2 linked regions of the Homo sapiens genome follow. The protein of the gene in region 2 purifies or fractionates together with the protein of the main gene of each other region. This does not show direct contact. Each region holds a gene or a part of one and is shown on either strand. Other genes may lie near its edges.

Region 1 (3,500 bases), on a different chromosome or scaffold from region 2:
GACAGGGTCTGGCTGTTACCCAGGCTGTAGTGCAGTGGCACAATCACTGCAACCTCTGCCTCCTTGGCTCAAGCGATCCTCCCATTTCAGCCTCCCAAGTAGCTGGGACTACAGGCATGTGCCACCATGATCCTCGATCACTGCAACCTCTGCCTCCTGGGCTCAAGTGATCCTCTCATTTCAGCCTCCCAAGTAGCTGGGACTACAGGCATGTGCCACCATGCCTGGCTTATTTTTGTATTTTTTTGGTAGAGACAGGGTTTTGCCATGTTGCCCAGGCTGGTCTCAAATTCCTGGGCTCAAGCAATCCTCATGCCTCGGCCTCCCACAATGCTGGGATTATAGGTGTGAGCCGTGGCACCCAGCTATCTCTCTTTTTTTTTCATAATGAAACTTTTTGCTCTGTAAAATTTTGAACCTAGTCAAAAGTAGAAAGAGCATAGTAAGCACCTACCTACTTATCACCCAACTTCTGTAGTTATCAGCACGGGCACAATCTCCTTTCTTCTTTACACTCTACTCAGTGCATTAATTTAAAGCAAATCCCAGACATCATATAATTTCATTCTTAAAGACTTCAGAATTATCTCTAAGAGATAAAGAAATTCTTTACAAAAACAAATTTAAGGCCAGGCACGGTGGCTCATGCCTGTAATCCCAGCACTTTGGGAGGCCGAGGTGGGTGGATCACCTGAGGTCAGGAGTTCGAGACCAGCCTGGCCAACATGATGAAACCCCCTAAAAATACAAAAATTAGTTGGGTGTGGTGGTATGCACCTGTTTTCCCAGCTACTCGGGAGGCTGAGGCAGGAGAATTGCTTGAACCCAGGAGGTGGAGGTTGCAGTGAGCCGAGCTCGTGCCACTACACTCCAGCCTGGGCGACAGAGCAAGACTCTGCCTCAAAAAAATAAAAAATTAAAATAAAAAAACTTCCAAAAAGCACAATACCATTATCAAACCTACAGAAGTCAATAATAATCTCTTTTTATCATTAAATATCCAGGTAGTGTTCAAATCTCTCTGATTGTCTCATAAATGCCTTGCAATTTCATCACAAATGGCCAGAAGAATCCCTGCAGTCCCCGGAGTAGCATGGCTCTAACAAAATCCTGCTTTCTCAGCCACAAAACATTTCACTAACATTAGTTATTGGAGTCCCTACATTTGCCACTGAGCCAAGTTGGTTAGCAAAGCCAGAACTTGGAATATCCACCCAGAGGGATGACAAGCTGAGCCCCAAAGGGGCCATGCATACGAAGCCATCTCAGCAGCCTGTTGTCTGTTGGTTTGTTGAAATCAGATCCATGCAAATTCTGCAAATTGCATTGGTTGACAAGTCTCTTAAATGTCTTTTAGTCTTTACTGTTTCCCTGGCCACTTATTTGTTGAAGAGGCTGAGCTGCTTGTTCTGTAGAATTTCATACGTTTCGGAGGTGGCTGATTGCACTCTTGCCGGGGCGCGGGTTATCTTATTCCTTCGTCCCCTATATTTTCTTGTAAGCTGCTCATAGATCTAGGGACTTGATCCAATTCAGGTTAAATTTTTGGGCAGGCTATTTTGCAGGTAGCATCTTTGATCTTTTGCCCTCTTCATGCACTGATTTCTTCTCAAAGTGTAAGACAGTCTGCCTTGGGGAGGCAAATGAGCATCCCCTTTCACGGCGGTTTACTTTTTCTAGGGTTTGGACCCACTTTCAAGGAAGCACTTCATCCCTTGGTGCCGCATGAAGCCATGCTGTTTCCATGGGCTGGGCGGGGCCGGGCTCAGCACCTGGGTGGCCAGTCCCTCAGAGCTTCCTCCTCAATTTTTCTCTTTTTGGTTCCACTTTGGAGGTGACTAGACCCTGTCCTTTTGGAACAATGTTTGGCCTTAGGTTTGAGTCCACAGGCCCCTAGGTGTGCACTTGGGACATTTCTGCAGACACAGTGAACAGTGACCTAGGAATTATAGTCCACGAGCCAAGCAAGTTTTGTGTTGTTCAGAAAACTGGCATCTTGGCATGACAGTGATGGGACTCATGGCTCATTAGAGTGTGTCACCCAGATCCTGGACCCTTGGGAGATCTGGTGACCAGATTCTCAGGGGAGGGAGAGCCAGACAGACATGGTTAACGGGTAAGCAGGGAGGGGCTGCTGAAGGAGAGCCTCACCCAACAGCTCACAATCAAGACCCAGACAGAGGCCAAATCAAACACATACGTAGAGTTCTGAGCTGGCCACATAGACATCCCAGAGAAGGACGGTGTGGGGCTGAGGATGGTGTGGTGCTGAAGCCTCAGGGGGTGGGGTGAGCTGGTGCCGAGTGGCTGGGGCACCCAAGATGTGGACTCCCATTCAGGAACCTTCCTCTCATGGCACGCTGCCTCTAAGACCGGGTCCCTGAACGTGGCCGCCACTCAACTCTGTCAACTCATTCCCTTGGGGGCTCAACTTGTCATCTCTCTGGGTGGACATTCCAAGTTCTAGCTTTGCTAACCAGCTTGGCTCAGTGGCAAATGTAGAGACTCCATCAGTAACTCATGTTTGTGAAATATTTTGCGGCTGAGAAAGCAGCCTTTTACTAGAGCCCTGCTACTCCGGGGACTGCAGAAATTCCGGCCATTTGTGAAATTACAAGCAATATCTTGATTCTCTCTTCTAGTCCAGGATTTTTGTTATTGTTATTGATCTGAGAACAGGCAGAGAGCAACACATGGAATCCTTTTGGAAGGTGGGTGGTGTTGGTCTGAGGCTTTCTCTTGAGTTATTTTTCCTGAAAGCCAGCCAGTACTTCTTCAGTCAACCAATGTGTACAGAGTGCTTTGTTGGTGCCAGGCTCTGGCCTAGGCACCGAGGGGGATGTGGAGTTTTGCATGGCCACGGAGCTCTCTCTAGAGCTTGTGGACAAGGAAGGGAGATTAAACGCAACACAAGCACAAGCAGCTGAAATTCAAGACGGCCTCTGATGAGTTCCTGAGATGGTATAAAAAGAAGGCAGAGATAAGAAGCCTTCTGGGGTGGAGGGGACTGGAACTGGGAAGTCAGACAGGCTTTGAGTCTCACCTTGGTTTGGCCACTTCCTACCTGTGAGGACGGGGGTTGGTTTCCTCATCTGTAAAATGGATATAACAATGCCTGTCTCACAGATAACATGTGCAAACACCTTGCCCAGTGTTTACGCAGAGTATCCCATAGTAAACGTTAACTGGGAAAGATTTGTGGAGAAGGCTGCTAGGGTCTTGAGATGATAACCCAGGGGAAGAGTCACAGAGTCTGAAAATGCATCAAACGTCTAATTCTTCAAAACCTTTAAAATGACCTAAAACTGAGCCTAGTACACATTTACCTTGCAGGCCTCGAACGGCTTTCCCCAGCTAAGCCTGATGTGGCTTCACTCGGAATCTGCTTGGAAATGGCAGCAGAACCTGGGATTATTTAAATTGTGAGACAGAAAAGTGGGAAGTGGGAACAAATGTGGCATAAAGGCCGGGGCAAGTAGGAACCTCAGCCCCTAATGCTG
Region 2 (3,500 bases):
CGGCGTCCGCTTCAATTCACTCGGCTTAGGAGCAGGGGTGCGCAGGAGGGAGGGGGTGGGGGAGCGGGAAAAAAAATAGAAGACCGAAAGGTGCCGGGCGGCTCAGCTCGCCAGAATCCAGCTCCGGGCTCCAGCAGGGCTAAGCCGCCACAGTGTGGTTGCCCTATAAGACTGGTACGCCCTACTCTCCGTAACAATGGCCTCTGCTTTTGCACAGGGAAAAAAAACCACACAGACACACACACACACTCACTCACACACAAGCTCACACCCCCCCACCTCTCCCCCTTTAGCAAGCTTAGATGCCTGATAAGGAGGGAAGGTGATGGTGGTGATGGGGAAGGGGGGAAATTTTAAAATACCCGCCTCCCCAAAAAAAGAGTAAGAAGAAAAGAAGGAGGGTTTTTTTTTTTTCCTTAAAGAACAGGTAAAAATTTAAATCTAGATTGGAGGGACAGGGAGGAAGAGGTGAGCAAAGGCAAGGAAGGGCGGTGAAGTTCACAGCTCCCCCCATACCCCACTAGTGAACTATTATGCTAATATGAGAAGTAGTATTTGGAGGCTGAGTCAAAGGCAGGCCTGGCCCGGGGGTGAGGGTGCCGGGTGCCCCTCTGCACTCATTCGCAATTGGAACACCAGGACTTTTTTAGAAAGTAGTTCTGGGTCTCCAACCCTCACACTCTGGCTCCCTCCTTCTGAGTCTCCAGCCCCGGCTTCTTCCCTCCACTACACCCTCTCTATTCCTCCCAAATCTCCCTCCAGTCTCCAGGCCCAGTCTCTAACCAAGGGAGAGGGAAAGACCAGAACTTAAAAAAAAAAAAAAAAAAAAAACACCCCTCCCCCTTTTTCTTTTTGAGAACAGACAACAAGCGGTGAGTGATGATTTTAAAAACTCTGAACATCTTGCAGGGGGAGGAGGGTTGAGAAAAGGGTGACAAAAGGAGGACTCTGTGTTTTAGTTTGAGCTCCAGACTGGCTGGCAGTAGACGGGCTGAAAGAACTTCATGGATAAGTTTCTGTTATGATTCTCACCTCCGAATAGGCAGAAGGGGCTAAGAGGTGATAAGGACATTTGTACTTCTAAGAAGAGAAGAACTAGCAGGGTCGCTTAATTTTAAATGCACTGGCAGAAGAGATGGAAGATGGTTATTATTATTATTCAGAACAACCCTGTTTGTTTCTCTCTGCCCTGCAAGATTTATGACTCTTGGCACAAGTGAGGAAGGCCACAAAAGCTAAAGTTTTCTTAGGGTGTGTTTGAGCAGGGCAGGAAAAGGCAAGGAGGAGGCCTGTAGGAGGAAGACAGGAGCCAAAAATGTAGGTGTCTGCAGATTTGGGACAGGGGGTGGGGAATAGTCATTCCGGGAGGAAGGAAAAGACAAAAAGAGCACCAGGACATTTCCCAAAGCAGGAGTGTTTGCAACTCTGCCTAACTGCTGACTCGGAGCTAGGGGATGAAATAGAAAGCTGACTCTTTTCTCTAAAGGCAGCTTGGAAAACTGGTCCTCTTAACTTCATGTAAGGCACTACCCTGTGATTTCCTGGTTAGAATACTTGGCTTTTGCCTTCTCCCATCTGGATGCACCAGAAGAGGGAACGGGACTGGGGACAACAAAGGTGAGAGTTGATTTCCAGCTTTTGTGTTCCCTCCAGCATAGGTTGGAGGTGTCTGGCAAAGCTTCCCTCATTCCCTCTCTCTCCCCACTCACAGGCTCTACTTTGGGATGAGATAGGGAGTGGCCCCTGGCCTCCAGCCCCTACTTCTTCCAGGCAAGGCTAAGTCAGGCCAGGTGATTTGGAGCAGCCGGTTTCCAGGGGCCCTGATAAACTGGGGGTACCTATGGCCTTCCTGCCCTCCAGCAACAGAAGCCACTTGCAGAGCCTCAGAATGTAATGTCCTGAGGACCCCACCTCCCACCTAGAAAGTTGACAGCTGGGGGGAAGCACGGGTTGGGGGACATGGGGATGGAGGGTGGGAGCTATTTTTCTGTGTTTATTAGCTATTATTCTGTGTTTATTAGTATTTTTCTGTGTTTATTAGTAGTATCAAGAAAATAAAACATCCAAGTCAGACCTAGACTTGGGGCTCAAGCCAGCCTGGAACCCCAAAGAGACCTGTTAGGGGTGCCTGAGCATGTGGCTGCAAAAAGTCTGTCCTGAGATCTCTACACTCTGGTTAGAGACCTACAGGGTCAGACCCCATGTAACTTTGAGCTTGGTGGGTCAGGGACTCAGGCCAGGGAGGCTTCCAGAGGCTTAAAGAAACCAGTACCTTTGGGGTTTTTTTTTCTATCACTCCCCCAAATAAAAAAAAAGCCAAGAATGTACCTCAAAACCTCTGCTGTCCTAGCTGTTACTATCATTGGGTTAGAGAAGGTCATTGTAAAACTGAGAGAAGAGGAGAACCTGATCGCTTTTGGGACTGCGCAGCTTTGCCTCTAGGAATAACACGAGAGTCCAGAAGGCACCCAGGCAGCCTCGGGCCGGCTGCAGGAGAAGCGGGCCTGGAGCTGAGCTGGGAGTGGAGGAGTGTTCCAGAGACAACAGCAGACCCCTCCCTTCCCCAAGCCTCCTCAACTCTTTGTGGTCCCTCGGGCTACAGAAGGCAGTGGGGCATAGTGGGGTGGGAGTGAAAAAGAGGACCGAGAAGCAAGAAAATGAACCTGGAGAAAATCTCAGAGGACATATACCCCCAAATGCGGTAGGAGATGGAGTGGGGGCTTCTTAATTCTGGAGTACAGAGCCCATTTGGAATACTTGGGAGGCAATTAGATCCCAGTTTAGTTTCTGTCTTGCCTTTTTTCTTCCATTCTCAGAGGTCTCTGGCGAGCAGGCGGGCTGCCCTCTGATTAGGGCTGGGAGGCTGGAGGACGGAGGGTGGAACAGGCACCCCTAAGGGCCCCTGTTTGGACTGAGGTGTTGCTGCTAGCCAGGGGATTTTCAAACTTCAGGGGATAAAGGCTGGTAGTGAGGAGTTTGAGCAGGGAACTTGGGGTGGGGGACGCCAGAGCAGGCTGAGGGAAGACTTTGGGGTCTGGGAAAAGAGAAGCAGGAGAAGGGCTTATCATCCCTGAGAGTGAAGCCATGATTTCGGAACAGACTGGAGATACAGAAGAGGGAACAATTTCTTCTTGGATTTGGGAGGGAAACCTGGAAAACTGTGTGTGTGTGCCCATGTGTGTAGGGTGTGTGTGTGTGTGAGAGAGAGAGAGAGAGAAAGGAGGAGAAAGAGAAATTGAAAAAGAGGAAAATTGAGTAAGAGACAGAGACACTAGCATAAACTAATGAAGTAAAAAAATAATAAGGGTAAAGATTAGAGAAAATGCCCTTCTTCACAGACATCTTTTCCTCTTCCATTCCGTTTCTTCAGAGCCAGAGCACTCGCTCTGGCACTTCTCTCCCCCACCCCACTGGGTACCCAGTATCAGGCGACGGGAGCACTTTAAACCCTCTGGAACAATCAAGGGCTACCCGCCCTTCTAGACCTCGGCGGCGGGATC

What was found. The genes of interacting proteins can lie anywhere in the genome.
Region 1: the proteins of HOXB3 (region 2) and FBLN5 purify together in Homo sapiens (affinity purification with mass spectrometry; one large-scale study listed by BioGRID and IntAct). This does not show direct contact.

Annotation. Positions count from the first base shown.
Region 1 is NC_000014.9:91,930,695-91,934,194, reverse strand, and holds part of FBLN5 (fibulin-5 isoform 1 precursor), read left to right. Parts: intron 1-3,500. UniProt on the Homo sapiens protein: Essential for elastic fiber formation, is involved in the assembly of continuous elastin (ELN) polymer and promotes the interaction of microfibrils and ELN. Stabilizes and organizes elastic fibers in the skin, lung and vasculature.
Region 2 is NC_000017.11:48,555,742-48,559,241, forward strand, and holds part of HOXB3 (homeobox protein Hox-B3), read right to left. Parts: intron 3,326-3,500; exon of another isoform or gene 1-3,325. UniProt on the Homo sapiens protein: Sequence-specific transcription factor which is part of a developmental regulatory system that provides cells with specific positional identities on the anterior-posterior axis.